7 linked regions of the Homo sapiens genome follow. The protein of the gene in region 2 interacts with the protein of the main gene of each other region in a pairwise test. Each region holds a gene or a part of one and is shown on either strand. Other genes may lie near its edges.

Region 1 (4,252 bases), on a different chromosome or scaffold from region 2:
CCCACCCACTGCCCCCACCCAACCCCTTCCCTCCTGCCACCCCGGACCCAGCTCCTCGGATTCAGGGACGCTGCCGACACCTCGCCTGCTGGAGCGGGCACCGTGTCACCCCCATCAATCAGATGGCTGCGTGTGGGTCTGGGGTACAGGGTCGGGGCGCGGGGTCCGCCTGACAGACGTGGCAGGGGGCTGTGTGTGTGTGTGTGTGTGTGTGAGCGAGTATGTGTGTGCTTGAGCCCAGCCACACCTCGGCCAGGCGGCCCCCGGGTGACTGGTGGGACAGAAGGTGCTCCCGGCGTAAGACAATGGTGGAGCGTGAAATTCAATTAGTTCAGGGCCTGGTTCCAATTTCACAGCCCCTAAATGCAAAAGGGGCAAAGAGAATGGGAGGGTGGGGGAGAGCGTTTTTATTGCATTTTCTCTTTCATTCTGGGGGGCTTTCTCGCCCCTTCTCTCCCTGCAGCAGGCCTCAACCTGCACAGGGCTTTTGAAGGAGTCATTTGGAGTCCATATCTGTCACATCCATTTAAGGCGTTTCGGGAGGAGGGAGAGGGTGGGGTGGCGGGTGCAGACTCCTCCGCTGAGCCGGGCCCAGAGGCCCACTGCCCTCTCTTCCCACCCTAGGGGTCCCTGTGAAGGTGACCAACGTCAAGGATGGCACCACCCACCAGACCTCCTTGGAGCTCTTCATGTACCTGAACGAAGTCGCGTGAGTGTCTGCAGCCCTGTCCGGCCTCTTGGGAACCGCCGTCTCGGGCGAGCACGAGCCTGGACCGTTGCAGCTAATGGTTGTGGCTGAGGCTCAGGGGTGCGGAGCACAGGCCATGTCCCTTCCCCATAGCCACAGAGTTTCCCGGACCAGGGGGACCCATTTGGCAGGAGAGGCTCCGTGGTCCTTAGCCTTGGAAGATAACAACCCCAGGAGGTCTCCTGCCTCCAAGGGATCATTAGGCCGGGGCTCTCAGGCCCTTGGCTGGATGGGAGGCCAGGATAGAAGGAAAGGGAGCAGTAGTTAGCTGTGGCGCTAGGCAGGGCCCCAGGACACAGGGAACGGAAGGAACAATGTGAACTCACACCTGGGCAATCCCTGCTCTCTCTGGGCCTCAGTTTCCCCACCTGTCCAGTGGGCACCTGGACTAGGTGACCCGGCTCAGATGTCCTCTTGAGTCTTAGATCCTGAAATGCTGCCTAATGTGTGGCCTAAGCTGTGCCCACCCTGGGACAGCCCAGCTGGGTGGGTGACTCTGAGCCTTGCGGTAGCGCCCGAACCTAATGGACCAGTTCTTCCCACAGGGGCAAGCATGGCGTGGGCCGTATTGACATCGTGGAGAACCGCTTCATTGGAATGAAGTCCCGAGGTGAGTCTGCTCAGCCTCCCTCAGGGCCTGCCTCGGGACCCAGCAAACCCAGAGATCCCTGAGACCCTGTCCCCTTTGGACGCTACTACCCCCATGCTCCGTGGGCGACCTTGGGCACGTCCTTTCACCACACCCCGTGAGACCGCAGTTTCCCTCCTGCCAAGTGGGGATCGTGGGCCCTTTGCCCCTGACTTTCAGGGTGTTATGAGAAGAGCTGTCCAAGGGCTGGGAGAGGCCCAGGAGGGCCTGGGGAGTCTCCGAGGAGCAGGGAGGCCAGGGCCAGGCCTGGAGGTCAGGCTGTCTTGTGTCTGGGGTGGGCAGGCCGGGTGTGGAGGCAGACCGTGCAGGCCCGATTTCGTGGTCATTAAGGCCGCATGGAGGCCGCCGGCCAGGCAGGGCGAAAATCCTGCCAGGGGTGGGCGCTGTGGCTGCACAGGCACTGGGAGCCGGCCAGGGCCTAAGGACCTGTCCCAGCATCAGGCACGGCTCACTGGCCCTTTTCTCCAGGGATGGGGCTGTGCCACAGTTGGGGCTGTGCCGCAGTTGAGGCTGAGCTTCAGTGTGACATGCCTGCCACCTCGGCTGGCCTCTAGCCTGCCTAGCCTCGTATCCGCCTGTGGCTGGGCCCAGGAGCAGGGCAGTTGGTCCCCAAGCAGGTGCCTCTGTCTTCTCTTAGTAGCCAAAGCCCATGATTCCCTTTGTCAGCCAATCAGCATTTCATCTTGACCACAACCCTCCTCTCCAGGACTCAGTTTCCCCATTCATACACCAAGGGGATCTCAGCTCCCTGAGGGTCTGCCAGTGTGTGATAAAGCCATGCTGTGTTCTTTCTTGGGGGTCCTAAGAGGGAAAGAGCAAGGTTTCAGCAGTTGCAGCCCCTGAATTGGGCACCTGAATTTTTATACTGGTGGTGGGGTCAGGGCTTCCTGTTTCGGTAAATGTTCAGGTCTCTTTGCTTAGGGTTGATTTGAAAAGATACCACAACCAAATATCACCTGGCCACGGTATAGTCACGGCCCCATGTCTCTCAGGCTATTTTTACTAAGATTCTAAAATCCAAAGAGAGCCGATCACCCCATGTGGGCCAGAAGAAAAGGGTGGTGGTCCGGAGGGCAGGATGCCTGCTTCTGGTCTCAGGTTTGCCCTGCCTTGCCCAACAACCTTGGACTTGTCATCTATCGCTAGGCCTCAGTTTCCCCAAGTGTAATGCGGTAGGCGCTGGGAGTTGCATCACTCTGGCTCTGACCTGTCTGCGTTTCCCTGGAAAGGCATGGCAGCATGGACCGGGGCGGGGACGGGCTTGCCTCGAAAGACATGGGAGCGCGGAAGGGGAGGCAGGCTCGCCTCTTTCTTGTGGCTTTAGCTCCTTGCTTGCTGTTATTCAGGAGAAACAACCTAATTGAAGCTCTGGGGAGGCCTTGAGAACAATGTTACTAATTAGCTGCTCCTTTTTATCCGGGCTTACCTTTGTCTCTTACCTATATTAACATGTGATTAGATGCCCCTTTGTCGCAGCCTGCCCTTGGGAGCCAGCGCGGTGTGCACCCTCCAGGGAGAGCTGGGAGGGACCTTGAGGAGCCACAGACCAGCACCCCATTTACAGATGCGGAAGCCAGGGCTGGGGAGGGGTGGGATAGAGGGCTTGCTTCAAGTCCCAGGCACTTTAGTGGCAGGACCAGGACTGCCATCTGGGCCCAGAGTGGCATGGAGTGGAGGGCTAACAGCTTAGACTGGAGTTGGACAGATCTGGGTTCAAACTCATGTATGGTGGCAGGAACTGGTACACTGGAAGTGCTCCATAAATAGCCATCAGTCCCCCGGGCATGTGGAATGGGGACAGAAGCAGCCCCCATCCTCTGGGAGCTGTCAGTGTGGCGGGGGGTGGGGTGGGTTCCAGTATTGCACCTGTCTTATCATAATAAGGGCCTGCCACAGGCATGCCCTTGCCATGCCTGTGGCAGGCATCACCAGTCAATGCTGGCATTATCCTGTTGACTCCAGAGGTATCTCAGGGCTGCTTGCAGGCACTACCAAATGATCAGGATTGGCATACGTGATGAAAGTGTATTGCCTTCCCTATTGGAAAGATAAGGACTGGCCTGAAGTCACTGTGAAATGGCATCCTGTGGGGTGGGGCGAGTCAAGCAGAGTTGAGCAAAAATGAACTGAAGGAGGTGGTTAGTGATGAAAACCTGGAATGCACTATTCTGAATGTGGAATGGTAGCTGACAGCATTCCACGGAGGCTGGACCTTTTTCCCAGAATGGGGGCCTCATCCCCGTAGAAGGTCAAAGCCATGAGATCAACAGTCTGTTCCAATCCCCGTGGCTCCTTACCACCCACCTGGGGAAAGCTTCCTGGAGCCCAGCCTTCACTCTGCCCTGGTACTTTGTGTGTGCTGTTGGAGGCTCTCCCCAAAAGCACAGAATTTAGTCAGTGTCGTACAGGGAAGAAAATCGGGATTCTGACGGCAAGAACTTGCTGTGTGATCTTAGGCAAGTTTCTCCCTCTGGAACTCCAATTGTCAAGGGGCCAGATGAGGAGGTCGTATCATCTCCCTCTGAATGTCCTCACTCACCTATTTTCTTGCTTTGGGTTGGGGAGAGAAGACAAAGTTGCTAGGTAATTTTAGGGTGGTGTCTTGTTTTTATTTCTCTACTCCAAATATTTCATGTGAGAAGGAAAGAGGAGAGACGGTAAATTAGGGCACTGTGGATTCCCCCATGACAAGGTTTTTATTAAGTGTACAGTAATGAGAGAAGCTGTTAATCGTCAATTATATTGAGGGCAGAACAGAAAGATGCTATTGTCCGTATCTCGGTGTACAAGGGGAACATGTCATTTGTATTGATTTTACAAAGCTCGTAATTGAAATTCGTTAAGGGCTGATTTTT
Region 2 (4,252 bases):
AGGTACAACCTTGGGAAAGACATTTAACCTCTCTGGGCCTCATGTTCCTCAACTGTAAAACTGATCATTGCATTAGCTACCTTATTCTCTGTAACATAATTGTGCCCATCTGACACAGAGGAAAAGCCAATGCCAACATCCCCAGGGTTGGTAGACGCTATCCAGTACTACCTGTAGTATATAGGTATACAGTACTATGCTACATAGTAACTATAGCAGCAAAAAGGAGACACCTGGCTTTCTTAGCGTGACTAGATGAATACTGTATTGATTACATATTACAGCAATTATAATAATTAAGCAATGATTAGATTATGGTGATGATGATAATATTGTTTAAATCAAGGTATTAGAATTAATGAATAACAAGAACCAACACTATAAACAGAACATTACCATTGTAGCCCAAGCAGAGGGGAAGGAAAGATGGAAGCCTTCCTGGCAATGCAGTAACAAGAATGGTGGCCCACACACAGACCCAGTTCGCAGCAGGCAAATGAGAAGACCCACATTTTGGAGGCAGAACCATTCATTAATAACCCAAACACAAACAACTGCATGATCACAGGTCCTCTAAACATACTCATTTCCCAGAGGGGAAAGGGACACCCTTCAGAGAGAAACAACTTCTGATGATGGTTTAACAACACAAACACAGGTGATGTCCAGGAAGCACTCCAAGCATGGCCTTTTCCCAGAGAGATGCCAAGGCCGGGCCTGCCACCCCCATCCACGCACACATGCCACCTCACCTGAGCACCTGCATCTCATTCTTGAAAGCCTGGGCCTGCTCAGCTGTGGGCTGGGACACCTTGAGCACCTTCACGGCCACATCGCCATGCCACCGCCCTCGAAACACGGTGCCAAACGAGCCCGTCCCGATCCTCTTCAGCAGCTGCACCTCACTGGGTGGTACCTCCCAGTAATAGCCTGAGTCCCGGTACCCCAGGTTCTTCTGTGGGCCAGATGGGTGGCATCTAAGAGGCCTGCCCACATCCCTCATCCCACGTCACTCAGCCTTGGTGGCCCCAAAAGGATCCCCCTCGAGCATACCACTTTCTTCTTGTCATCGGCCAAGGACTTCCGCTCGCGCTGCTCTGCTGGTGACTTGGAATGTGGGGACTTCCTCCCCGAGGACACGCTGGCTGGGCTGGGGCTCCCCCGGGGGGTTCCATCACTACCTCCTCTACTACCGGCAGCTGCAGTTGCAGAGAGGATGTGAGTGGAGGTAAGTGGGGCAGCGGGGGTCAGGGTGCAGGCACAGGGGACTCACCATCAGTGCTGAAACTCTGGCCAGTGAGCTAGAAGAAGAGGGACAGGAGTCAAAAAGAGGGCATGGAGGCCAACAGGGATGGCTCTACCCTCTGCCCTGTGGTCCCCGGCATTGTCCCCCACAGCACCAACCTGGATGAGGTTGGAGTCCATGGGGGCCGTGGTGCTGACCATATGGACGTTGGGAGTGGACGTGGAGCGGATGCGCTGTAGGGGGGCATTGGCTGGGGCAGGGAAGGGGAAGTGCTCCGGGTCACAGTGCTGGGTGCGGGGGCTGCCAGGGGAAAGGCTGTGAAATCACTGCCAGGAATCAGAGAACCGAGAAAGCCCCCCACCCCACCCCCAGCCATAAACATGCATTTGGCTCACACAGAGCGAATGTCCACTGGCAGTACTATTATTCATTGCTTCAAGAAACATTTATTGAGTGCCTGCTGTGTGCCAGATACCATTCTAGGTGGTGGAGATAAAACTGTAAAACAAAATAACAGTTCTTGCCCTGGTGGGGCTGAAATAAAAAACAAATATATAATATGCCTGATGGTGATAGGTGCAATAAAGAAAAATAGTAAAGCAAAATAAGGAGACACAAAGTGTTCCTAGAAAGTGTCAGGAAAGGTTTCTCTGAGGAGGAGATGACAATGGAGTAAACGCCTAAAGGCAGGATAGCAGGCCACACAGATAGTGGGGAAAGGGTAATGTATCATATTTTATAATTATATATTATAATTACATGTACTTTTCAAATGTTATATAATATGTATCATCTATATAAAAATGGCAATGTTTTAAAATATACATATTACCATATTGTTATACATACATGTTATACATATGATATATGCTAAACATATTGTAAAGTTACAAAAATATGTTAATGTTCCCTTCACTATCCTGAAATGAAACTCAAAGGTAATTAATGCACATACACTCATAATTTAAAATAATACCCTAACTTTATTTTATGTATCATATAAACATGTATGATGTTCTACATTATATAAAATTATGTAATACAACATGATACAATAACATAAATATACCATAAAATATGCACATCATAAAATATATATTAGAGCAATAATATATTTTAATATAGCTATAGTTTTATATAATATTTAACATAAAAAAGCAATAAAAGGGAAGTAATTTATGATAAAATAATACGTATTTCAAAATGGAAAGGCTTGAGTATGATTATACTAGAATTAGCAAAGTAGTTAGATGCTTATAAATATATTTATAATTAATAACAAAAAAATTGATTATTTACACTGTACCAGATCCTGTTCTAGGCACTGAACATGTCTTAACTCATTTAAGCCTCACCAGAACCTTTATATGGTAGAAAGTATCATCATCCCCTCTTTACAGATGAGAAAACTGAGGCCCAGAGAAATGAGGTGACTTGCCCAAGGTCCCAGTTTCATGCCCTTACTCACACTTGTAGGTGCTCAATAAATGTTTGTCAAGTAAACAAATGAATAAAGTATGGCTCGTGGTCTACAAGAGCCCCAAGATCTTTTTCTCCCCCAGCAGCTCTTCAGCTAAGGCATCCCTACCTGGGACCCTGGGGGGTTAGCAACTCATTCAGGGGGCGGTTCGAGGGAGCCTCATGCTGTCTGGAGCCTCCGGACAAATCCTGGACACTGTGGTAGAACCTTGAGGGCATGAAGGGTATAAAGCAAGGGGACACGGGTCAGCTGTCTGTAAGGGCCTCGTGGCTGGGCCTCTGTGCTCCCCATCCCCCCACCCACCCCAGGCTGGGCTCACTGTTGGCGGTTGGTACTCATGTCAACACAGACTGTGGGGACCTTGGAGGAACAATGCTGGTGGAACTTGTAGCCACAGGTTTGGCAACGGAAGCCATGGAACAGAAACTTAAGGCAGAAGTCACAGAACGCCAGGCTGAAGAAGGTCTTCCGTACCTGATGCCACAGAGCAGGGAAGTTTGAGACCTGGTCAAGGACACCCCCAACCATGGTCCACCCCCACCGTCCACCCTGCACTCACAAAATTGTGCATGGTCAGCGGGACATCTTCAAGGACCTCGACAATGAGCTCCTCGCCATCCAGGGGAGCAATGGCTGTGTCCCAGGCAGTGACCGTCTTTCGTCTGCAGGGGGCATGGAAAGGAATGAGTGGGAGGTTGGGTAGGGGCCATGGGGAGGCAGGGAACCCCCACAAGTCCCTCCAAGCCTGCTACCCACAGGGTCATGTCTGGCATGTTTAATTCTCATCACAGCAACTCTAGAAATTAGTCACTATCCTTGCCCCAACTTTACAGATGGGGAAACAGGCTCAGAGGGATAAAGTGACTGGCCCTGGGCCACAAGGGTAATGAGAGGCATGACGGTGTGAAGAGTCCATGCTCTGAAACGGAAGGGGAGAAGCAAATGAAACTAAACAACTACATCTTAGAAGCGCTAAGCCAGCCCCTGAAAAGGGGGCTGAGGAGGCACTGAAACAACAAATAAAGTGCAGTGTGTGAACTGCATCATAAATTAAGGAAACCCACGAGAGAGGAATAAATAAAGTCAGCAAGACCCAACTCAGCAGACAGAGAATGGGGAAAATGAGGAAGAAGAGACCTGATGAAGTCATGACATCGTGAAAGGACAAAATAGATGAAATCTGGGCAGAAGTGATGGACCAGGGTGAGGACTTGGGGGCCAGGGGAGAATGAGTTGCTGACCTTACAGGCCAATAAACCAATGAAGTAACAAAACAAAAGATGGATGAACTCATAGATTACTTGAACTACAGTAGTCCTCCCTTATCTGTGGTTTCACTCTCCATGGTTTCAGTTACCTGTGGTCAACCGGGTGGGAAAGTATTAAATTGAAAATTGCAGAAATAAACAATTCATAAGTTTTAAATTACGTGCATTCTGAGTAGCGTGATGAAATCCTGCACCATCCCACCCAGGATGTGAATCACCTCTTTATCTAGCAGATCCACACTGTCTACGCTACCGCCC
Region 3 (4,883 bases), on a different chromosome or scaffold from region 2:
AACTGAATGTTTGTAGTGAGAGAGATTTTTTTAAGGAACAAATTTGATGTGTTTTAACCTGACCACACTTTATTCTGCTCCACACCATTCCAGGGCTAAATCAGTAAATCCTAGTCCAAATTCCTGTGACAGGAGAGGCCCTGAACATAATCAAAATGCAACTATCAGTTTACCTGATATGCTTTGACAAGAAAAAGTGGGAAAGCCTGCCATTTGTCTCTTAAAAACTGTAAGTTGAGAGGGGGAGAAAAGCCATTTTCAAGACTACAAAAGTGTAGCACCCACTAAAGGTTGGAAAGTGCTTTTGACACCACCTGGACAACATGGCAAAACCCCATCTCTACAAAAAAAAAAAAAAAAAAAAAAGGCTGGCTGTGGTGGTGCTCGCCTGTAGTCCCAGCTACTTAGGAAGCTGAGGTAGGAGAATCAGCTGAGCCTGGGAAGTTTAGGTAAGCCATGATGGCACCATTGCACTGCAGCCTGGGTGACAGAGACCCTGTCTCTTAAAAAAAAAAAGAAAAAAAAGTGAAGCACCAATGGCATCTCATAATCCACAACTCATACTCTCACTAATATGCATGTTAATTTTAATTTTAAAAATTAGCTTATGCCTCAGGGACGCTCCTACCCTTTTTTTTTTTTGTAAACAGAGACAGGGTCTCACTATGTTGGCCAAGGTGGTCTGAATTCCTGGCCTCAAGCAATCCTGCCTCGGCCTCCCAAAGTGCTAGGATATTACAGGTGTGAGCCACTGTGTCTGTCTGGCCTTTCTTTTCTTTTATTTTCTGAAGACAATGATTACAACTTTTAGATTTTTTTGTAGATACAAATTTGTCAATAAATAAAAACCTTTCAGATCCAAATCTTCCAAAAATTCCTAAAATCCAGCTATTTCTGTTCACAATGAATGTGCTTATTAAAAACTTCAGAGGAGAAAAAAGTGATACAGAAGACACATTAATGTTCAAGCAACTTAAAACAAAAAGGTAGATTTAATGCAGTAACAATAATCTGAGGATAAATAAATCCACGACAGACTTTAAAGTTTGCAAATCTGTTTCCTTTCTTTGCAGAGAAAATGGTTTTCTGAAAGCACACAGGACTGAAGATGTCAAAACAAAACTTAATTTCTTAGTCTCCAGGTGACACAGGCTTGGTCCTCTCTGCTGCCCTCCGAACACTTGTCACTGGCCAAGATGGTAGTTTCTCTTGTTTAGCTCAGGATGGATGTTAGTTTCAAGAATAACTGGATGGTTTGTTTCCTGAATCATCTTCTTGTGAGCCCATACTCTGTAAAGGTAAAGTGAAGTTATGTATTTATGTTTGCTTTTATCAAGGGTTCCCCGGCAGCCCAATAAGCACACCAGTTGCCCTGTCCCTCCCAGAACAAAGCCCCCTGTGAACAAGGGCAGGCAATTCCAGGAACCACCCTAAGCATCCCTAAGTGTACTTCCAGGCCATCATTTGAAAATGCTCTCAACTAGTATTTCTCCATGACCGTACTGGTAAGGTTTTCAAGAAATATTTAATAACCTGAAACTTAGTTCCTGTGCCTGATGTGACAACACCCCTCCTTCTCCACCCAGCCTACTTCTTGTAATAAGGGAACCCTCATCACCTTTTGTACAAACTGAGGGTTCACTGTGATCTCCTGGTCCATGGCTTTCAGCCGCTCATCCAGCTCAATGCACTTCAGCATCTGCATGACAGGCACATTAGAAGGTGGTCAGCGGCGGGTTTAGGTCAGCTGCATCCTTTCTAACTTACACTGTTCACAAGGGTGCTATAGGTTCACAATCTCTTGATGTGAAACCCCTGGGGCCACATGGGTTTTGGAGCCAGAGTATTTTGGACTCAGAAAGCTAATACATCTATCATATAATACCAAATATCCCACCCAGCAGGATCTAGGCAAACCTCATAATCAAACACATAGTATCTTTTGCAGTGAAACGAGTATATTCATGCTGAGATAAATGAAGACTAGACACCATTTCAGGTGACATTTTGCCATTAAATTAATTACAAAAAAACATAGTTTTCTGAGATTTAATATTCAGTTCACTTCCCTGCTCAGAGGTAAGAAACACAGACCACCCACAAAACTCCCCCTTCAGCCCCCAGAATCAGAGGCAGCATGCCCTCAGGAGACACAGAGGTGACTGCTGCAGCTGTAGCCAGGCTGTTGCCTAAAGGGGACCGTCAGGGAGGGCTTTGCTCTTCTCCTCCAGCCACCCCGACTCTGCTTCTCACATAGGGAGAGATGTTTCCTAACCTCCCAACCTGGAACTCCACAGACATTTCAGCAAAAACATAAGGCTCTATGTTGTAGGTGGCAGCTGGGAATAGATAAAGTTATACTGGGCCCTTTAAGTGTTTTCACAGTTAAGGGAGGTTTTGATGAGTTAGCTGGGATATCTAACCCACCATTTATTTACAGCCATACAATCTGAGAGAGTTTTGTTTTTTTGAGACAGAGTCTCCCTCTGTTGCCCAGGCTGGAGTGCAGTGGCGCAATCTCAGCTTACTGTAACATCTGCCTCCCAGGTTCTAAGAGACTTTCCTGCCTCAGCCTCCAGAGTAGCTGGGATTACAGGCGTGCACCACCACACCCGGCTGATTTTTTATTTTTTTTAGTAGAGACGGGGTTTTGCCATGTTGGGCAGGCTGGTCTTGAACTCCTGACCTCAGCTGATCCACCCACTTCAGCCTCCCAAAGTGTTGGGATTACAGGCATGAGCCACCACACCCAGCCTGGAAGAGTTTTAAGCAGCCCATTCTGGGTTTCTTTTGTTGTTGTTGCTGCTTTTCTTGAGACAGAGTCTTGCTCTGTCACCCAAGGTGGAGGACAGTGGCACAATCTCGGCTCACTGTAACCCGTCTCCAGGGTTCAAGCAATTCTCCTTAAGCAGCCCATTTTGAAACTAACTTTCTAGTAACTAAGATGTTCACAGACTGGGAACTACCTGTACTTAAAACTAAAATTATCCTGGAACATAGGAGCAATTTTCAAATACATCTCAACCATCAATTAAAAAAATAAAAACCTGGCATTCATGTTTACCTCCTGATCAATGTTATGAAGCATGGCTGGGTTATTATATTTTTCAGGGTTATCATGGAAACTGACCATACCGTCCTTCTGGTTAATACTTGCAAAAATCTCACCATCTTCTATCTGCAGAAAGAAAAAAAAAAAAATCAGGAAAGCAGTTTAGACCTGAATGCTATATGAATAGTCATCCAGTATAATCACAGAAAAGCATGGAAGGCAACATGGATATAAATAAACTTGTATATTTTTAAGCGCCATCTGTTTATCCAAGTATTTATTAAATACCTACTATTTGCTAGGCACCATTATAGATGCTAAGAGGTGTAAAACTGATACACACAAAATCCCTGCCCTTGCATTTTTGTTATTGAGGTGAAGTCCACACAACATAATTAACCATTTTATTTATTTATTTATTTATTTATTTGAGATGGAGTCTCGCTGTCCCCCAGGCTGGAGTGCAGTGGTGCGTTCTTGGCTCACTGCAACCTCTACCTCCGGGGTTCAAGCAATTCTCCTGCCTCAGCCTCCCAAGTAACTGGGATTACAGGTGCCCGCCACCACACCAGGCTAATTTTTTTGTTGTTTTTTTTGAGATGGCGTTTCGCTCTTGTTGCCCAGGCTGGAGTGTAATGGCACAATCTCGGCTCACTGCAACCTCCGCCTCCTGAGTTCAAGCAATTCTCCTGCTTCAGCCTCCTAAGTAGCTAGCATTACAGGCATGCACCACCACGCCTGGCTAATTTTGTATTTTTAGTAGAGACAGGGTTTCTCCATGTTGGTCAGGCTGGTCTCCAACTCCCGACTTTAGGTGAGCCATCCGCCTCGGCTTCCCAAAGTGCTGGGATTACAGGCGTAAGCCACCGCGCCCAGCCATTTTTTTGTATTTTTAATAAACACGGGGTTTCACCATGTTGGCCAGGCTGGTTTCGAACTCTTAACCTCAAGTGATCTACCTGCCTCGGCCTCCCAAAATGCTGGGATTACAGGCATGGGCCACCACATCTGGCCTACCTTTTTAAAGTGAGCAATTAATTGGCATTTAATGCATTCTACAATGTTGTGCCACCACCATCTCTATCTAGTTCTGGAGCATTTTCGTCACCCCAGAAAGAGGCCCTAGGCCCATTAGCAGTCCCTCCCCATTCCCTCCTTCTCCTCCCAGCCCCTGGAAACCACCAATCTGTTCTTGTCTCGTATGGATTTGCCTTTTCTGGATATATGAATGGAATCATATACTATGTAATCTTTTGTGGTCTGGCTTCCCTTAGCATGATGTATTTGAGGTGCCCTTGCATTTTTCAACATCAGCTGCACTGAAATATAACTTACATCGCCTTTTTTTTTTTTTTTTTTGAGATGGGGTCTCGCTCTGTTGCCCAGGCTGGAGTGCAGTGGCTTGATCTCTGCTCACTGCAACCTCCACCTCCTGGGTTCAGGGGATTCTCCTGCCTCGGCCTCCTAAGTAGCTGGGACTACAGGTATGTGCCACGATGCCCAGCTAATTTTTTTTATTTTTAGTAGAGATGACGTTTTGCCATGTTGGCCAGGCTGGGCCACTGTATTTTAAAAAGTAAAGCCTAACACGTTTTCTTTTCATCCCAGTGGAAACTATCTTCCGATTCTTCAAGAAAACTTTACTACCACTGGGGATTCCAAGGTAGATTCAAGGTCTATATATTATTTATTTGCATCAGTTACTGGGGAATTATTTGACTGATCCTCAAAGCCAAATCCTGCCCATGAAGTTAAAAAGTGAGATACCAATAAAAGTACAAAACAGGTATTTTATTCCTAACAAGATGTTCCACACGGTGATAATAACTTG
Region 4 (4,252 bases), on a different chromosome or scaffold from region 2:
GGAACATTTTAAACTGGTGATTAAATTTCTTCATTCATCAGTTTTCTTAGATTTTTCTAAGTCTTTGACCATTTTGTCTTAAATGATTGCATAAAGATTTTATTTACTTACATATTTTTTCTCTTGTATCTGTAGTTTTGTTTCCATTTTTATTTGTGATATTGTCTTTATTTTTTCTTGTGTAATCTCATCAGAAATTTGCCTTTTTTCTATTAGTCTTTTTAATGAACCAGCTTTTTGCATGGTTGAGTATTCAGATTTCATAAATCTATTCTTATTCGATAGATTAGAATATGTTATGGAAAAGGTGAAGATTGACTTGTTTACTAAATTCTAAACTTTCAAGAGCTAAACTTTCAACCCTTGAAATTTGAAAAATATATTTTTCATAATAAAATGATATGCAGGTGCTCATCATTATCCTCAAATGCTGCTGTTATTTAAAACTGGAGGTTTAAGAATAGTTTAGATCAACTTACGGATGATAGATGTACATGAATTAAGAAATCTTGTGATCCTTTTAGTATAGGCTTTTTGATTAAACAAAAAAGGTTCTGCAGTCTTAGAGCTATACCTGTGAGGGAGTCCAAAGCTAAACAGATCTTTGATTCAATCTCTTGTTTTGTGTTCTTACCATTAAACTTTCTGTCTTAAACTTCTGAGGCTCTTTCACTAGGTTTTGTGCTGTTATGCTGCATATACTTAAGTATTTTGTGATTTGCTCTACTCATAAATATCTACCACCTCAGGTAAACCTTTCCCTGACTTTATTTTACCTATTTAGGCCTTAAAACATTTATACCTTAAATATTTGTAAAATGGCTGAATCTTCCTAGAAAATAGAAAGTTTAAAATTTTCTCATTTGTATGTTCATCATTATCTCCTTAAGCACATATCTTTGAGCATGTGGTAAAAGGTATAAGGTGAATTGGTCAGTGTAGGGGAGCAATAAGAACAGCATGCTGTTCTTTGGATGATGATATATGGGTAAAATGTTCTTGATTATCTCTTCTTTAAATTTCCTAATGTTTTTTTCTTCAGGATCCTATAACTCATCTCTGATACATATAATTAAATATTTAATAAGTTGTAGTCCAACATGCTCAAATGGAAAAATTGGAAAGTTACAATTTTCAGGTTTAAAGTTTGTAACATTCCATCTTTACCCTTCAAATTCTTTTCATCCTCTCCCTTCCACAGTATAGATAGTAAGACTTGTTTTAGTATATTAGATCTTACCTCCCAATTGAAATGGAAATGTAGCAGAGGTGTTCATAGTCCAAACTATTTTAAATTCTGTTTTTAAAAGCAAATTTCTTTCAAGCTTTTTCCCAAAAATTTGGAAGTCATTTTAAAAAGTATTGTGGTTTTATTGTTTTCTATCCTTTTTAAATGAATTTTTTTCTTAGATCTCCAAGAGGTTTGTCTCATTCTCCTTGGGCTGTAAAAAAGATTAATCCTATATGTAATGATCATTATCGAAGTGTGTATCAAAAGAGACTAATGGATGAAGCTAAGATTTTGAAAAGCCTTCATCATCCAAACATTGTTGGTACGTTTAAATTTGGTAGCAGTATCTGGTATATTATTTTGTTTATTCAGAAACAGCTTATATGCTCTCTTAACTGGTTTCACTAATAGAAATGAAGAGGATGGGGCTGGATATTTAATGGGTATCAAATTAATGTGATTGGTCTAAAATAAAAATTTGCATATAGTATTTTTTGATGCCTAAGTATATAAACTTCATGAGAACAGATATAATAATTATGTTGCTAGTTCTATGAAGATTTTAAGAATATAAAATGATCTTCATTTAGATAATTTAAATCCATTTAGGTAATTTCCTGGATTTCATTTTTCATTTTTAATACAAGTAGGGCTGGTGAAACTATTATATTTAGGGAAGCAAAGGAAAATAAAAGTATTTTAATTTGTGGTACTACTGGCAAACACTGAAGGCATTTTAAATGAGATCTACTGAATTAGTCTTGTAAATAGTAGCTGTTTCATTGTATATTTGTCAGCGTTAGTCCAGATCCATATTTTCAATCACGTTACTATAAAGGACTTAAATATTATTGTTCTTCTCTATATTAGTGAAGAAATGTCATGTTTTCTTTAAGGTTATCGTGCTTTTACTGAAGCCAATGATGGCAGTCTGTGTCTTGCTATGGAATATGGAGGTGAAAAGTCTCTAAATGACTTAATAGAAGAACGATATAAAGCCAGCCAAGATCCTTTTCCAGCAGCCATAATTTTAAAAGTTGCTTTGAATATGGCAAGAGGGTTAAAGGTAACTATGTCATTATATTTTAAATGACTTCTGTTTTTGTTCATATTTTAAATGAACAAATAATCACTTTGCAGGACATCTTTGAATGTGGATGGATATTGTTACTTGTCAGTTCCAAAAAGGGGTTAGCGGAAAACAAAATAGAGGCTTACATTTCTGCTTCCAAATTACATTCATGTGTAGCTTAATATGTTCTGAGAAATGTGTCATTTGGCAGTTTCATCACTGTGCGTGCGGACATCATAGAGTGTACTTACACACACCTAGATGGTAGAGCCAACTACACACCTGGGCTATGTGGTATATATAGCCCAGTTCTCCTAGGCCACAAACCTGTATAGAATGTTACTGTACTGAATACTATAGGCAGTTGTAACACAGTGGTAAGTACTGTGTGACTAAACATATCAAAACATAGAAAAGGTAAAATCAAAATATGATATTATAATCTTATGGGACCACCGTCGTATATGTTGTCCATCATTGACCAAAACATCCTTATACGTACATGTGGCCCTAGTCATTCATTGTCCCACATGGTCTCAACAATTTATGTATGCTTCACTGAAGATTCCAAAATTATTTCTAAAAATTACTAGACTAGCCTCAAAATTGTGGTATCTTTTGAAATCTGCAGTTGTATCTTCTGATATAAAGTATGTAGGATTAGTTAACTTACCAAGTTAACCAATTTATAAGTATAGTTAACTTATAAGCTGTCGGTATATATACATACTTATATATAAAAATAGTTAACTTGGCTGGGTGTGGTGGCTCACGCCTGTAATCCCAGCACTTTGGGAGGCCAAGGCAGGCAGATCACGAGGGCAGGAATTTGAGATCAGCCTGGCCAACATAGTGAAACCCCATCTCTACTAAAAATACAAAAATGAGCCGGGCATGGTGGCGGCACCTGTAATCCCAGCTACTCGGGAGGCTGAGGCAGGAGAATCGCTTGAACTTGGAAGGCAGATGTTGCAGTGAGCCAAGATCGCGCCACTGCACTCCAGCCTGGGCAACAAGAGCAAGACTCTGTCTTGGAAAAAAATAGTTAACTTATAATTATTTATTTTATAAGTATAAAAGGTTAGCAGAAGTATCTATTTCTAAATAAACTTTTAGACTTCTGGTCAGTATGGCAGACTGAGATAACATGGGATGTTCCCTTCTCTTGTTTCAAATACTTTGAAATGCTGGGCACAGTGGCTCATACCTGTAATCCCAGCACTTTGGGAGACTGAGGCAGGCGGATCACTTGAAGCCAGGAGTTCGAGACAGACCAGCCTGGTCAACATGGTGAAACCTCGTCTTTACTAAAAATACAAAAATTAGCCAGGTGTGGTGGTGCCCGCCTGTAGTCCCAGCTACTTGGGAGGCTGAGGCAGGAAAATCACTTGAACCCAGGAGGCGGAGGTTGCAGTGAGCCGAGATCGTGCCACTGCATGCCAGCCTGGGCAACAGAGTGAGACTCCGTTTTAAAAAAAAAAAAAAAAATTTTGAAACGCTGGACAAATGTAAACCTAGAGTTTAGGAAGGGAGTTCAAGTTGTTATATTTGGAGGTTATCACATTTTTTTATTAGTTTGTGTTTCTGCACATATGTGTTAAATTTTTTACTATTTTAGTATCTGCACCAAGAAAAGAAACTGCTTCATGGAGACATAAAGTCTTCAAATGTTGTAATTAAAGGCGATTTTGAAACAATTAAAATCTGTGATGTAGGAGTCTCTCTACCACTGGATGAAAATATGACTGGTAAGTTGTACTCTTAAGTTTTAAAATTTTGTTTTTAATACAGTGTTTACATTTTTAAATACGTAAGTCCACATGGATCAAAAATCAAAAACTATTTTTAAAAAGTATATGGTAAAAAGTCCCCTTTTTTTCTCTCTCTCCCAGTCAGCCTGCAGTCTTCTCCCTTGCCACATGTACAGTATAAATTACTGTATTATTATT
Region 5 (3,689 bases), on a different chromosome or scaffold from region 2:
CAAGCATTCTGGGCACCTGGGGAGCAGCTCTGAGCTGCACGCATCTCCCACAGCCCCACCCTCAGGACAGGTCAGAAGGCAAGGCCAGGGCATACAGGCCAGAGATGCTCAGGGGCCAGTAGAGCCTGGTGCTGGGCGGCCCAGGCTGAGGCCGTGCCCCGGGACCAGGACCGGGCTGGCACCAGGAACCTGGCCCATGTCAAGACCACTGGCCTTGTGTCCCCACCCTGTGCCGCCACCTGCTCCTCTTGGAGCAAGCCTGCAGACATTTCTGCATACCCCACAGGCCGAGGAAGGTCCCTTGGAAAACTTCCAAGGCTGGGGGTGCACGGATCAGCTACTGGGGCCCCCGACACAGGGCAGCTTTGGCTCCGGGCTCCTGTGGAGTGGCTCTAGCCCAGCCCCAGTCAGGGTGGGGACCCCTCACTTGCCCCAGGAGCAGGGAACATACTTTCCCTGCAGCGTGCAGCCTGCAGTGCTGCCCACCCCATCCTAACTCCTGAGGACTGGCTCAGCCACCACTCTCGTGAGCACAGCTCATGCTGCAGCCCCGTGACCAGCAGGCCCACCCCCAGGCCTGCCATGCCACCCTCCATGAGTCCCGGACCCCACCCCTCCCAGCTCCAAGAGGAGGCACAGCCTGGCCCTGCCCATGGCATCCCCAGGCCTGTCCTCAGCCCCACAGCAACCACCTGCATGGCCTGCCACCAGCTACTCCTCCTACAGGAGAGCTCGCCGTGTCCCGAGGGCCATCTCAGGTCAGGGTCACTGCTTCCCGCCCCTTCCCCAGTCCTCTCCAAGGCCCTGGTCACAGAGCTCAGAACCAGCAGGCAGAAGCTGGAGCTATGCAAGCCTTTATTGGGGTCCGCGGGGTGTGGGGTGAGTGGCCAAGACTGGCCTCTGTCTAGAACCCTGGAGTCTCACTGGAGATCCAGGTTGGGGGCCACCTGGCTGAGGAACCATGAGACACCAAAGATGACGCCGAGGGTCTTGGGGATGTCCGGGTCGTCTGCAAAGGCCTGGGCGCCTTCCAGGGGCAGGTGCACCACCTCAATGAGCTCACCCTCCTCCACCAGGCCCCCACCTGGACCGCTACGCTGGGCATCTGTCACCTCTGTGTAGAACATGGTCTGTCTGGAGCCAGTCAGTCCCACTCCAGACCTACGGGTTGAGACAGGGTCTGCTGAGTCACCCACGCTGGCCCCGCTGGCCCCCTGGCCCTTCTACCACCCTCCAACCCACCCTCTCCACTCTGCTCCCTCCAGCCCTCCAGTAGGCAGGACTCTGGGATGCCCTCTCCCACCCGGATTCCCACCTGGTGTGCACGCCCGTGGCCCCTCCCGCAGCAGGGCATCCCTTCCCTGATCACGTTGTACTCGCCAGGTGGGGTGGGTGTTGTCGATGTGATTAAGGACCCTAACCGGTGACTTGAGCTCATCAGAAGGGAGAGCATCCTAGGCGGGCATGGCCCGATCACGAAGCCCTCCAGAGGGTGTTTCAACGCCAGAAAGGGAGAAATTCAGGCCAGTCCTGCTGGCCCTGAAGGGGAAGCAACCGCCATGCTGGGAAGGGCCAACAGCCAGCAGGGAGGTGGGACCCAGTCCCCAGCCACCAGGAGCTGAATTCTGCCATAACCTCGTGAGCCGGGAAGACCCCAAGCCCCCATGAGATTGCAGATCCGGCTGACAACCTGCCTGCAACCTGTCAAGGCCAAGCAGAAGACCCCACCCCTGTCTGCAGCCCCCAACCAGATACCCTGAGGCTGTTCCCAGTGCTGTTTGGAGCCCCTCAGTCTGTGGCCAGCTGCAGAGGCCCATGCCAGACCCCAGCCCATACCCGGGGACACAGGCTGGCTGGGAAGCAGGGACAAACCCACCAGGCCTTCCCGCAAGGGTTCCCCACCAGGCACCCACAGGACACAAGTTTCAGACTAGGAACAGCATGCACTGACCGCCCCCCCACCCCCCGTAGCATGGCAGAGTGGGGTGGGGTGGCAGCGAGGTCCTCAGTACCAGGCCCAGTGGCCCAGGCTGGGGAGGGGTAAGAGGAAGCCCCCTCCCTCAGTGGGCAGTGGCCAGAAGGGGGCTGCTGGCAGCCAGGAGGGGTCAGGCACCAAGGGAAGGAGCCTGGACTGGCGTGTGTGGAGGGAGACCACGGGCTAGGAGGACAGGATGGCAGAGGGGCTGGGCTGCATTCTGGAACAGGAGGGGGAGGGCCAGGTGTGGATCTGGGGAGAAACGGGACTGAGGGGCATCTGGGAAGATGACCAGGGGGTGGGGGAGCCCTGGCTCGCCGCAGGAGGGGCTGTCGGGTGCCATGAACCAAGGCCAGCCGGAGGCCTGCAGGGTAGAGGCCGCCCTCTGAGATGTACCCAACATACAGGGGCAGGGACAGAACTGGGGGCTTCCATGCCCCACCCCCAAGGCCTCCCCACCTCCGGGGGGACTCACCCCAGACCGACCTTACCCAGCTGCTTCCTTGCCCTCTAGCCCCTCACCTCCCGCAGACCCCTTCCTGATGGCCCATTTCCGGCGGCGGCCGCGGCTGCGCCTCTGAGGGAAGTGGCGGGTCTGGGGTTTCCAGCCCCGGTTTCCGCCGGCTTGTGAAGGAGACAGGCCCGGCCCTTGGCCCGGGCTGAGAGGAATCTGCCAGCCAGGCTGGGCAACGCCTCCCCCACCCCAGGGCACGTTCCAACTTCACTCCATCACGCCCCAAGCTGACTGCCTCCCTGGGCCTTGTCCTTTGCAGCGGCAGGTAAGAGGCCTGGCTCACCTCCAGAATCAGAGACAGGGAGCCACGGGCCCTGCCACAGGGTGGGTGAACTTTGCTGTCAGTCCAGCCCCCCATCAGGCCCTCAGAGACGGACACCCTGACCCCTAGTCAGCAGCATCTCCAGTCCTGCATCCCTGAAGCCACGGCCTGCTCTTCCCGATGCGAGTCTAAGCAGGATGCCTACTTCCCAGAGCCCTCCTTGGCTCCCCAGCACCCTCACAATCAGGCTGTGGCCCAGAGGCTGTACCAGTAGAACCACCGCGGCCAGGGCTGCTTGACCACTTGCCCTGAGAGCCTGTGCGGTCCCTCTGCCAGGAACCTGCCCAGGCCCACCTCCTCCAGGGGGACCAAGGGGACTCCAGCCCCTCCCATGCCTCCCGGCTGTGCTCAGTACTATGGGCTGGGGAGCTGGGGGCACAGTGGGCGTGGCCCACCACGGGGTAGACACCTGCAGAAAACCAAGGCCCATCCTTCACACCCAAGTCCACCCTTCGGCATGGAAATTCTGTTTTGTTGAGACAGAGTTTCGCTCTTGTTGCCCAGGCTAGAGTGCAATGGCGCGATCTCGGCTCACCGCAACCTCCGCCTCCTGGGTTCAGGCTCACCGCAACCTCCGCCTCCTGGGTTCAAGCGATTCTCCTGCCTCAGTCTCCTGAGTAGCTGGAATTACAGGCTCCTGCCACCACGCCTGGCTAATTTTGTACTTTTAGCAGAGGCGGGGTTTCTCCATGTGGTCAGGCTGGTCTCGAACTCCTGACCTCAGGTGATCCGCCTGCCTCGGCCTCCCAAAGTGCTGGGATTACAGGCGTGAGCCACCGTGCCTGGCCCAGCGTGGAAATGCTGCCTTTAACTTGGGAGTCCACCCATCCAGCCAGGAACGTGCCCAGGTGAAGTCCTTGAGGCTGCTGAGGTGGGAG
Region 6 (4,252 bases), on a different chromosome or scaffold from region 2:
CACGCCTGTAAACCCAGCACTTTGGGAGGCCAAGGTGGGTGGATCACAAGATCAGGAGTTCGAGACCAGCCTGGCCAGGATGGTGAAACCCCGTGTCTACTAAAAATACAAAAATTAGCCAGGCGTGGTGGCACATGCCTGTAGTCCCAGCTACTCAGGAGGCTGAGGCAGGAGAATCACATGAACCTGGGAAGCAGAGGCTGCAGTGAGCCGAGATCACGCCACTGCCCTCCAGCCTGGGTGACAGAGCAAGACCCCGTCTCAAAAAAAAATAAATAAAATTTTTATTAAAAAAGAAAGAATAGAAAGCAGGGTCTCTGACAAATATCTGTACACCCGTATTCACAGCAGCATTATTCACAATAGTCAAAAGGTGAAAGTGGTCCAAGTGTCCGTCAGCGAATAAACAGGTCAGCGAATGCGGTCTACATAGATGAGCGAATGCGGTCCACACACACCAAAGAGTCAAGTCTCATCCTGCCTTAAACTGAGAACATGCTGGCCGGGGCGCCGGGGCTCATGCCTGTAATCCCAGCACTTTGGGAGGCCGAGCCACGTGGATCACTGGAGGTCAGGAGTTCGAGACCAGCCTGGCCAACATGGTGAAATCCCATCTCTAACTAAAAATACAAAAAAATCACACTTCTAATCCCAGCATCCTGGGAGGCTGAGGCGAGTGGATCACGAGGTCAGGAGATCAAGACCATCCTGGCCAACATGATGAAACCCCGTCTCTACTAAAAATACAAAAATTAGCCAGACATGGTGGCACACGCCTATAGTTCCAGCTACTCGGGAGGCTGAGGCAGGAGAATCACCTGAACCCAGGAGGTGGAGGTTGCAGTGAGCCGAGATCACACCACTGCACTCCAGCTCGGGTGACGGTGCCAGGCTCCGTCTCAAAAAAAAAAAAAAAAATTAGCTGGGCTTGGTGGTGCACACCTGTAGTCCCAGCTACTTGGGAGGCTCAGGTGGGAGAATCATTTGAACCCGAGAGGCGGAGGCTGCAGTGAGCCAAGACCATGCCATTGAACTCCAGCCTGGGTGACAGAGAGAGACTCTGTCTCAAAAAAAAAAAAAAAAAAAAGAACATGCTGACGCATGCTGCACCATGAGCTAATTGAAATAAGCCTGTCACAGTAAGGTAAATACTGTATGATTCCAGTCATATAAGATCCAGAGAGTAGTGACATTTATAGAAACAGAGAGAACGGTGGATGCCAGGGGCTGGGGAGAAAGCGCACGGGGACTCAATGTTTAACAGGTACGGAGTTTCAATTTGGGAAGATGAAAACAGTTCTGGAGATGAATGGTGATGAGGTTGTATAACAACATGAACATAATTATGTCAGTGAAGGTATGTACAGTCAAGAATGATTAAAATGGTAAATTCTGTGTTACATATATTTTACCACAAAAAAATTACTGTGACAGTTTTATTTATTTATTGAGACAGTCTCACTCCGTAACCCAGGCTGGTGTGCAGAGGCGCGATCATAGCTCATGGCAGCCTCAAACTCCCTAGCTCAAGCAATCCTTCCACCTCAGCCTCTCGAACAGCTGGGACTACAGGCACCACCAGGCCCAGCTATTTCTTTTAGTTTTTGTAGAGACAGAGTCTCACCATCACCATGTTGCCCAGGCTGGTCTTGAACTCCTGACCTCAAGCAATCCTCCTACCTTGGTCTCTCAAAGTGCTAGGATTACAGGCATGAGTGCCTGGCCCAAAAAGTTTTACAATTTCTATGTAAACAAATTTCAGGCTGGGCATGGTAGTTCACACCTGTAATCCCAGCACTTTGTGAGGCCAGCGCGGACAGATCACTTGTGCCCAGGAGCTCCAGCCCAGGTTGGGCAACCTAGTGACACCCCATCTCAACAAAAAATACAAAAATTAGTTGGGTATGGTGGCACATGCCTGTAATCTCAGCTACTTGGCAGGCTGAGGTGGAAGGATCGCCTTAGCCCAGGGAGGTCAAGGCTGTATGTAGCCAGCCATGATTGTGCCACTTTTTGTTTTTGTTTTTGTTTTTTATTTTGAGACAGTCTCACTCTGTTGCCCAGGCCGGAGTGCACTGGTGCAATCTCGGCTCACTGCAACCTCCAACGCCCGGGTTCAAGCAATTCTCCTGCCTTAGCCTCCCAAGTAGCTGGGATTACAGGCGCCCGCCACCACACCTGGCCAATTTCTGTATTTTTAGTAGAGACGGGGTTTCACCATGTTGGCCAGGCCAAAAGTAGTATGTTCCTTCGTGGTATCTGATATGCATATCAGAAAGAGTTCTGTACTTCACTGGTGTCTAGAGCACCTAGTCTCCAGATCAAAGTACACGTTCCATGCAGGGCCACAAGACAATTTACTGAGAGGCAGGAAAAAAACACACTTTTTAAAAAATTATTATTTTATATTTTAAAAAAAGGCCAAGTGCAGTGGCTCACACCTGTAATCCCCGCATTTTGGGAGGCCAAGGCAGACAGATCACCTGAGGTCAGGAGTTCAAGACCAGCCTGGCCAACATGGTAAAACCCCGTCTCTACAAAAAATACAAAAATTAGCCGGGTGTGGTGGTGGGCACCTGTAATCCCAGCTACTCAGGAGGCTGAGGTAGGAGAATCACTTGAACCCAGGAGGTGGAGGTTGCAGTGAGCCAAGATCACACCATTGCACTCCAGCCTCTGAGTGACACAGCAAGACTCTGGGTCAAAATTTTAAAAATCTGCGGAATTATTCAGGCAAAAATCAAGCCAAAAAAAAAAAAAGGAGAAGGAGAAGAAGGAGGAGGAGGAGAAGGAGGAGAAGAAAAAGGAGAAGAAGAAGAAGGAGAAAAAGAAAACAAAACAAAATTAAACTGTCTAAACCTGTCCACAGGAAAATGCTGTGTGACAAACTCACCTGGCTCAGCCTCATGTCCATCAGAGTGTTCCTCGCTTGGCCAATCTTCCTCATGTCCAGCTCACCTGTGCCAGGTGTCATCAGTCCTGGCGTCATTCCACCTGGGTATGGAGTGTTTAGTCCACCTGGATAGGGTGTGTTAAGACCTCCAAATTGCTGGAGGGGAAGAGAGGAAAGGCAAGAATAAAACAACGGTTTGCACTGCATGCCCAAGAAATTTACTCTCTGAAATACTTCCCCAGTGGCCTGACATATGCACAGCTGTGCAGACAGACTCGGCCACAGCATAGCCATGACCTGCAGAAGCATTGAATCCAACACCACCCACCATTCCTGCCACTGATCTAACAGGACTAAATGGGCCACATGTGCCCTTTTTTGGAAGCTCACAGTTTGTCGGGGATCCACTGAGGTATGGTTCTCTCCGGTCTGTAAATGTTTGGCAAAGAAACTGTCAGGAACAGGGGTCAGCTTCTCATAGCGTGGGTTCCGCTGACGTTTATTTCTGGCATCGCCAACCTCGGGGATGCTCAGCCACTCTTCTTCTGTGACTTCTGCCAACTTCCTCTGGAAATATCCAGCCCCCAAAAACATTAATTCTCTGACAGAATTTCATGTGCCCAGGTAGGACCATGCCCTCTCTCACCCCTAGCCTCCAGATCACCAAGCTTTAGAAGGGATTTGGATGCAGCAACTGTTTTTTACTTTTGTTTTGAGATGGGTCTCATTCTGTTGCCCAGGCTGGATTCAGTGGCACAATCACAGCTCACTGCAGCCTCAACCTCCCAGGCTCAAGTGATCCTCCCACTTCAGCTTCTCAAGTTGCTGGGACCACAAGCGTGGGCCACCATGCCTGGCTAAGTTTTTATTTTTTGTAAAGACAGGTTCTCCCCAAGGCTGGTCTCAAACTCCTGGGCTCAAGTGATCCTCCCACCTCAGCCTCCCAAAGTGCTGAGATTACAGATGTGAGCCACTGTACCCAGCCCCAAAAATAGTTTTCTACTTCACTTAGAAAAATCAATTTAGGCCGGGCACGGTGGCTCATGCCTGTTAATCCCAGCACTTTGGGAGGCCAAAGCGGGCAGATCACCTGAGGTCGGGAGTTCGAGACCAGCCTGACCAACATGGAGAAACCCCATCTCTACTAAAAATACAAAATTAGCCGGGCATGGTGGCACATGCCTGTAATCCCAGCTACTAGGGAGGCTGAGGCAGGAGAATCGTTTGAACCTGGGAGGCGGAGGTTGCGGTGAGCTGAGATCGCGTCATTGCACTCCAGCCTGGGCAACAAGAGCCAAACTCCGTCTCAAAAAAAAAAAAAAAAGAAAAAGAAAAGAAAAATCAATTTATTGGATCTGT
Region 7 (4,252 bases), on a different chromosome or scaffold from region 2:
AAAAAAAGAAAAGGAAAAATCAAATTTGTGTCGTATTGCCATAACATTCAGTATGTAAATGAGCCCTTGAGTAAGCAATAAAATAACAGCAGAAGAAATGACTTAGAACATTCTGAAGCCAGGTTAAACACAACTATGGCATCGGGTATATAAGTACAATAACAAAACTTCAAATTAAAAAGATCCATCTGTTGTTTGAAGCCTAATTAAAATTCTAACCAAATTTGCTAATGTATATTTTGTTTTACGTACAAAAACAGGCATCCATGTGTCCTTGTTTTAACTTCAGCACTTACATATCTGTGAAATGGGAGGAACAGAAATGTTTCTTCTCCTAGATATGAGACTCCACCACTAAAATGTTCTGCCTGTAAAGCCTTAAGCTAATTCAGCAATAGATTCCATAAAAGGTTTGAAAAAAAAAAAAAAACACCATTTAAAAGTCAGTAATTCCCTTGAGCTAGTAGTAAAAATGAAAATAATTTACTCTGGGATTATGGTATTGCTGTTGAATCATTTATCTACGTAAACTATTTGCACTTCAGAAAAAGTAGAGGCCCCACATGTTTTTTTTCCATTTTCACCAAGGCCTAAGGCTATATAACATACGTGCTTTCTGGCTTACCTGATGTTTCTAAGCTATTAGTTCGCCTCAGTACTCATCCTCTTAAAAAATAAATCTGAACTAAGCACTGAAAAGTAGAAAGCCTAAAGCCAGAATTTATTTCAGGTAATTATTGTGTAGATAATATGGTAAAAAGTTAAAATCAAGTAAATGAAATCTTATTCTTTTATTCTTGGAATTACACTATTAAGATATGGATTTTTGAAATTTAGAATTTCAGCACAATTTGTCTTTGAAATATTTCATGAGACTTCTCTGCAGTTACAAGGCCTAACACTTCAAAATTCTGAAGCACTGTAACAGCAGTAATCAATTAGGCCTTACCACATTCTCAGTTAATAATCTTACAACATTCCAAGTTAATATTAAGTCATCGGTCTTTGGTTAAACATAAGCCAATGTTAAGGGGACAAAATCAAAAGGTTAATTTACTTAAGTACTTTTATGTTTGAACATTTATAAACAAAAGATTAAGATTTATGAATCATTTTTATTCTAATAAGGTTTCTCATTGTAAATAAAATACAGCATTTATAAAAATTTCATTACAAAGTATGTTCATAAAGTGTAGGTTTATTAATATGCCTTACTGAGCATCTGCTATGTGGCAAGTTGTTCAGAATCCTGGAGGAACCTACATATCATAAGCTAATTTTTACTGTATGGTGGTGATAAATTAAAATGGTCTTATATTTCAGTCTGCATTATAGAAGAAACTTAGTAAAATTCTTTCATAATGTAGCAACCCTATTGATTCATTTATGAGAACTTCAAATTAGTCAGTTACCTCCCTATGAAATTTAAAAGATCAATGTATAGCATTTAACAAGTTGAAAAAAATAAAAAGCAAACAGAGTAGCCTTGAAAATATTTTTATAAGTTCAACTCATTTAGATCACATGAAGAAAATCAAATGGAAGCTAAAGATCCCTAGGGCTAAGGAGCCTAACACAAACTTTGACCTTGGCCCGCGCAGCTTTTTTCGGGCCTCCGTCATTGCAAATGCCCCAGGAAATACAAATCCCATCAAGGGCAGTCAGCGTAGCATACCAAACTCCTCCTGAAGGCTTGAAGTGAATTCTAGCATGCCCATTGCCTAAGAGATACTGAAAACTTTCTACAGCACCCCTCAATTTTTGGAACAGGTTGGAAATATGAAGAAAGTCTAATACAGATGTAAAGGCAGAGGAATAGTCTCCATTTCCATAGCAATAAGACCTAATGTCACCTCTAGATCGTCAGAAAGTCTGGCTAGACATGAGCAAATTGGAATGAGGGAGAGGAAAGCACAGGTCAAGATTAGTACTAGTCCCTTGGGCAGTTCTACAGCCAGAATGCTTAGCTTCTGACCCAAAGCTGGGACTAGGGTACTGAGTGATGTGCTTAGGGCCTAACTCTCAAAGAGATACACCATGACACTAACAGTGACAGCCTCCTTAAATTTTGCATCTCAGGTACCTCACTCACTTAACCTAGTCTAGGACATTTAAACTATAGTTTTTTCAAGAGTTTTATGTCAAGAAGCTCATAATGTCAAGGCGTTGTTGGTGACTAATAAATGAATCTATATTTTAGAAAATTGGGGATATAAAAAATGGAAAAAATTAAAATGTTCAAAAGAAAGGCCATCTCCCAATTAGAGAAGTATTGCATGCCAAAAGTATGTAAAGTTGTCCATCAGGCAAACTAATTCTGCAACAGCTCATTTGGGACTGAACACAATTAATATTTCAAAAATGTAGTTTGCCATAGATGAAATCCGTCCTAAAATGTGTCTATATGTAGTAAAAGTCCAATAAAATAGTTATTCTTAAAAGTGTGTGATAACCCCATCCCCACTCTTACATCTAACGTGTACAGAGGCTCCAATATGATAATGAGTTATATTTCCTGTGACTATCTTTAAAGCTACTACAATGTAAGTAAATTATTCTAATTGTAGGAGTTTTTATAGTTGCCAATTTCTAATCAAATGACAATAGCTCCTCAAGACGGAACTAAATAGATACTTCTATGTGAAAATCAGAATATAAAATCTTAAAAATGAATGCCTTTCAAAAGAAATAATGACTACCAGTGCTCATTCGTAGCTGAAGTATCAGAGAGGACACTTGGATTGTTAGGTTCCTAGCTTAATTATAACACAGGTCACCATTGTTAAAAAATGAGTGGATTAATGTTAGAAGGAGTACTTATTGAACACTTTTCTATTCATAGGGAACTTAAGCTTTACAATTTAATACTTTTGATTTCCAAATTCATTTGCAAGTAAAAATAAAACTATTTAGCTTTGATGACTTTCCCAGACTTGTGAACTCAGAATTCTGAAGTCTGTAAGTTTCTTGAAATCAGAGACTATACTCTTATGATCCACTTATTTCTATTTATCATTCTTCCTGTATACTCCCATGGTAGAGGTTCCGTGTTTATTAAAGAATAAATGAATGAATGAATGAAATAGGTTATTATGGTGTCTATTCTGCCTTTTGGAATTAAATTTGCCATACTGAAAAAAAAAGATTATTTGCTTCATTTTCCTTGAGTCTGATTTATTATAAGAAATATCTTCTTAGAGATGTTTAATATTAAGGCAAAGGTGAACAAATCATTATTATAAATATTTGAGAATTCTTATCAAATACCTTGTCATTGCAACAACTTGTAGTCCATAAAAAACATAAGGACTCTTTGATCTAACCCTCTACTAAGTCCTTCTACTAAAATGTATAGAATGGAATTTTTTTTTAAATATCCAGTTTTTGCTTTAAAATGTTCAGTTTAATGGTTTAAATTTAAAACTTTAAAGATTTTTGAGAATTGTTCATGTGTGACAATCACATAATTTGTCAAGTAAATCAGTCATCATTTGCACTATACAGATGACAAAACTTAGGTTCAGAGAATATGTGACTTGTCCAAGAACAGGGCATTAGGAAATGCATAACAGGGGTTAGATTCCAGATCTTTTTGTGCCCAATCCAGAGTATATCCCACTATTACACTGTTACAGCCTGCTGAATGTAATAATGAGTGCTGAACATTTTCAGTACTAATGGAAAAAGATTATGGTATCTAAAACTTTTTAGTATTTAGTATTTTATGGTTGTTGATCATTTATACCCTTGATATCAACTTTCTTTAAAATATAGAGCACCTTGAAATTCTTTCCTCTTTCCTGTAAGTAAAATACAACTGTGCCGATTGGCAAAGCACTCTATAAATATTAGCCGCTGACAAATACCCAGGGAAGGGCCACATAAAATTATAAGTGCGTCATTGCTGTCGTCAAACCCACCGTCTCTGTCATCAAAGAGAGAGGAAAAGCAAACCTCTAAATATGTCGAAAAAGCAACCCAATTTACAGGGCAATGATTATAGATGTGACTACAGGGTGTCTTTCCCAATCCATTTACCATCTATAACTGGACATAATGCTACTAACCTTTAAAGTGACTGTTCTCAGTGCCCTTCACTGACCATTATGTAACTACATCCTAATGATTTTAACTATCTTTAAAATATGATGTCCATCTAAAAATAGTAAATTTGGATATATTTTTCTAAGACAGTTGAGTTTTTAAAGTGAAGGCAGGAAGAAAAGTAGATAGAGGACTATTTCACAATAAC

What was found.
Region 1: the proteins of ARAF (region 2) and ASS1 interact in binary tests that used the Homo sapiens proteins (3 or more experiments, as listed by UniProt).
Region 3: the proteins of ARAF (region 2) and COPS3 interact in binary tests that used the Homo sapiens proteins (3 or more experiments, as listed by UniProt).
Region 4: the proteins of ARAF (region 2) and PBK interact in binary tests that used the Homo sapiens proteins (3 or more experiments, as listed by UniProt).
Region 5: the proteins of ARAF (region 2) and NUDT14 interact in binary tests that used the Homo sapiens proteins (3 or more experiments, as listed by UniProt).
Region 6: the proteins of ARAF (region 2) and PRPF6 interact in binary tests that used the Homo sapiens proteins (3 or more experiments, as listed by UniProt).
Region 7: the proteins of ARAF (region 2) and CPS1 interact in binary tests that used the Homo sapiens proteins (3 or more experiments, as listed by UniProt).

Annotation. Positions count from the first base shown.
Region 1 is NC_000009.12:130,479,092-130,483,343, forward strand, and holds part of ASS1 (argininosuccinate synthase), read left to right. Parts: intron 1-624; coding exon 625-709; intron 710-1,293; coding exon 1,294-1,358; intron 1,359-4,252. UniProt on the Homo sapiens protein: One of the enzymes of the urea cycle, the metabolic pathway transforming neurotoxic amonia produced by protein catabolism into inocuous urea in the liver of ureotelic animals.
Region 2 is NC_000023.11:47,563,933-47,568,184, reverse strand, and holds part of ARAF (serine/threonine-protein kinase A-Raf), read right to left. Parts: intron 3,389-4,252; coding exon 3,286-3,388; intron 3,201-3,285; coding exon 3,046-3,200; intron 2,943-3,045; coding exon of another isoform or gene 2,934-2,942; coding exon 2,835-2,933; coding exon of another isoform or gene 2,831-2,834; exon of another isoform or gene 2,210-2,830; intron 1,547-2,209; coding exon 1,405-1,546; intron 1,302-1,404; coding exon 1,274-1,301; intron 1,200-1,273; coding exon 1,054-1,199; intron 956-1,053; coding exon 753-955; intron 1-752. UniProt on the Homo sapiens protein: Involved in the transduction of mitogenic signals from the cell membrane to the nucleus. May also regulate the TOR signaling cascade. Phosphorylates PFKFB2.
Region 3 is NC_000017.11:17,245,862-17,250,744, forward strand, and holds the end of COPS3 (COP9 signalosome complex subunit 3), read right to left. Parts: intron 3,179-4,883; coding exon 3,065-3,178; intron 1,700-3,064; coding exon 1,619-1,699; intron 1,291-1,618; coding exon 1,237-1,290; 3' UTR 755-1,236; downstream 1-754. UniProt on the Homo sapiens protein: Component of the COP9 signalosome complex (CSN), a complex involved in various cellular and developmental processes.
Region 4 is NC_000008.11:27,820,364-27,824,615, reverse strand, and holds part of PBK (lymphokine-activated killer T-cell-originated protein kinase), read left to right. Parts: intron 1-1,410; coding exon 1,411-1,553; intron 1,554-2,127; coding exon 2,128-2,297; intron 2,298-3,921; coding exon 3,922-4,051; intron 4,052-4,252. UniProt on the Homo sapiens protein: Phosphorylates MAP kinase p38. Seems to be active only in mitosis. May also play a role in the activation of lymphoid cells.
Region 5 is NC_000014.9:105,172,101-105,175,789, forward strand, and holds the end of NUDT14 (uridine diphosphate glucose pyrophosphatase NUDT14), read right to left. Parts: exon of another isoform or gene 3,388-3,689; intron 1,162-3,387; coding exon 921-1,161; 3' UTR 839-920; downstream 1-838. UniProt on the Homo sapiens protein: Hydrolyzes UDP-glucose to glucose 1-phosphate and UMP and ADP-ribose to ribose 5-phosphate and AMP. The physiological substrate is probably UDP-glucose. Poor activity on other substrates such as ADP-glucose, CDP-glucose, GDP-glucose and GDP-mannose.
Region 6 is NC_000020.11:63,994,124-63,998,375, reverse strand, and holds part of PRPF6 (pre-mRNA-processing factor 6), read right to left. Parts: intron 3,461-4,252; coding exon 3,284-3,460; intron 3,050-3,283; coding exon 2,894-3,049; intron 1-2,893. UniProt on the Homo sapiens protein: Involved in pre-mRNA splicing as component of the U4/U6-U5 tri-snRNP complex, one of the building blocks of the spliceosome.
Region 7 is NC_000002.12:210,559,047-210,563,298, reverse strand, and holds part of CPS1 (carbamoyl-phosphate synthase [ammonia], mitochondrial isoform b precursor), read right to left. Parts: intron 1-4,252. UniProt on the Homo sapiens protein: Involved in the urea cycle of ureotelic animals where the enzyme plays an important role in removing excess ammonia from the cell.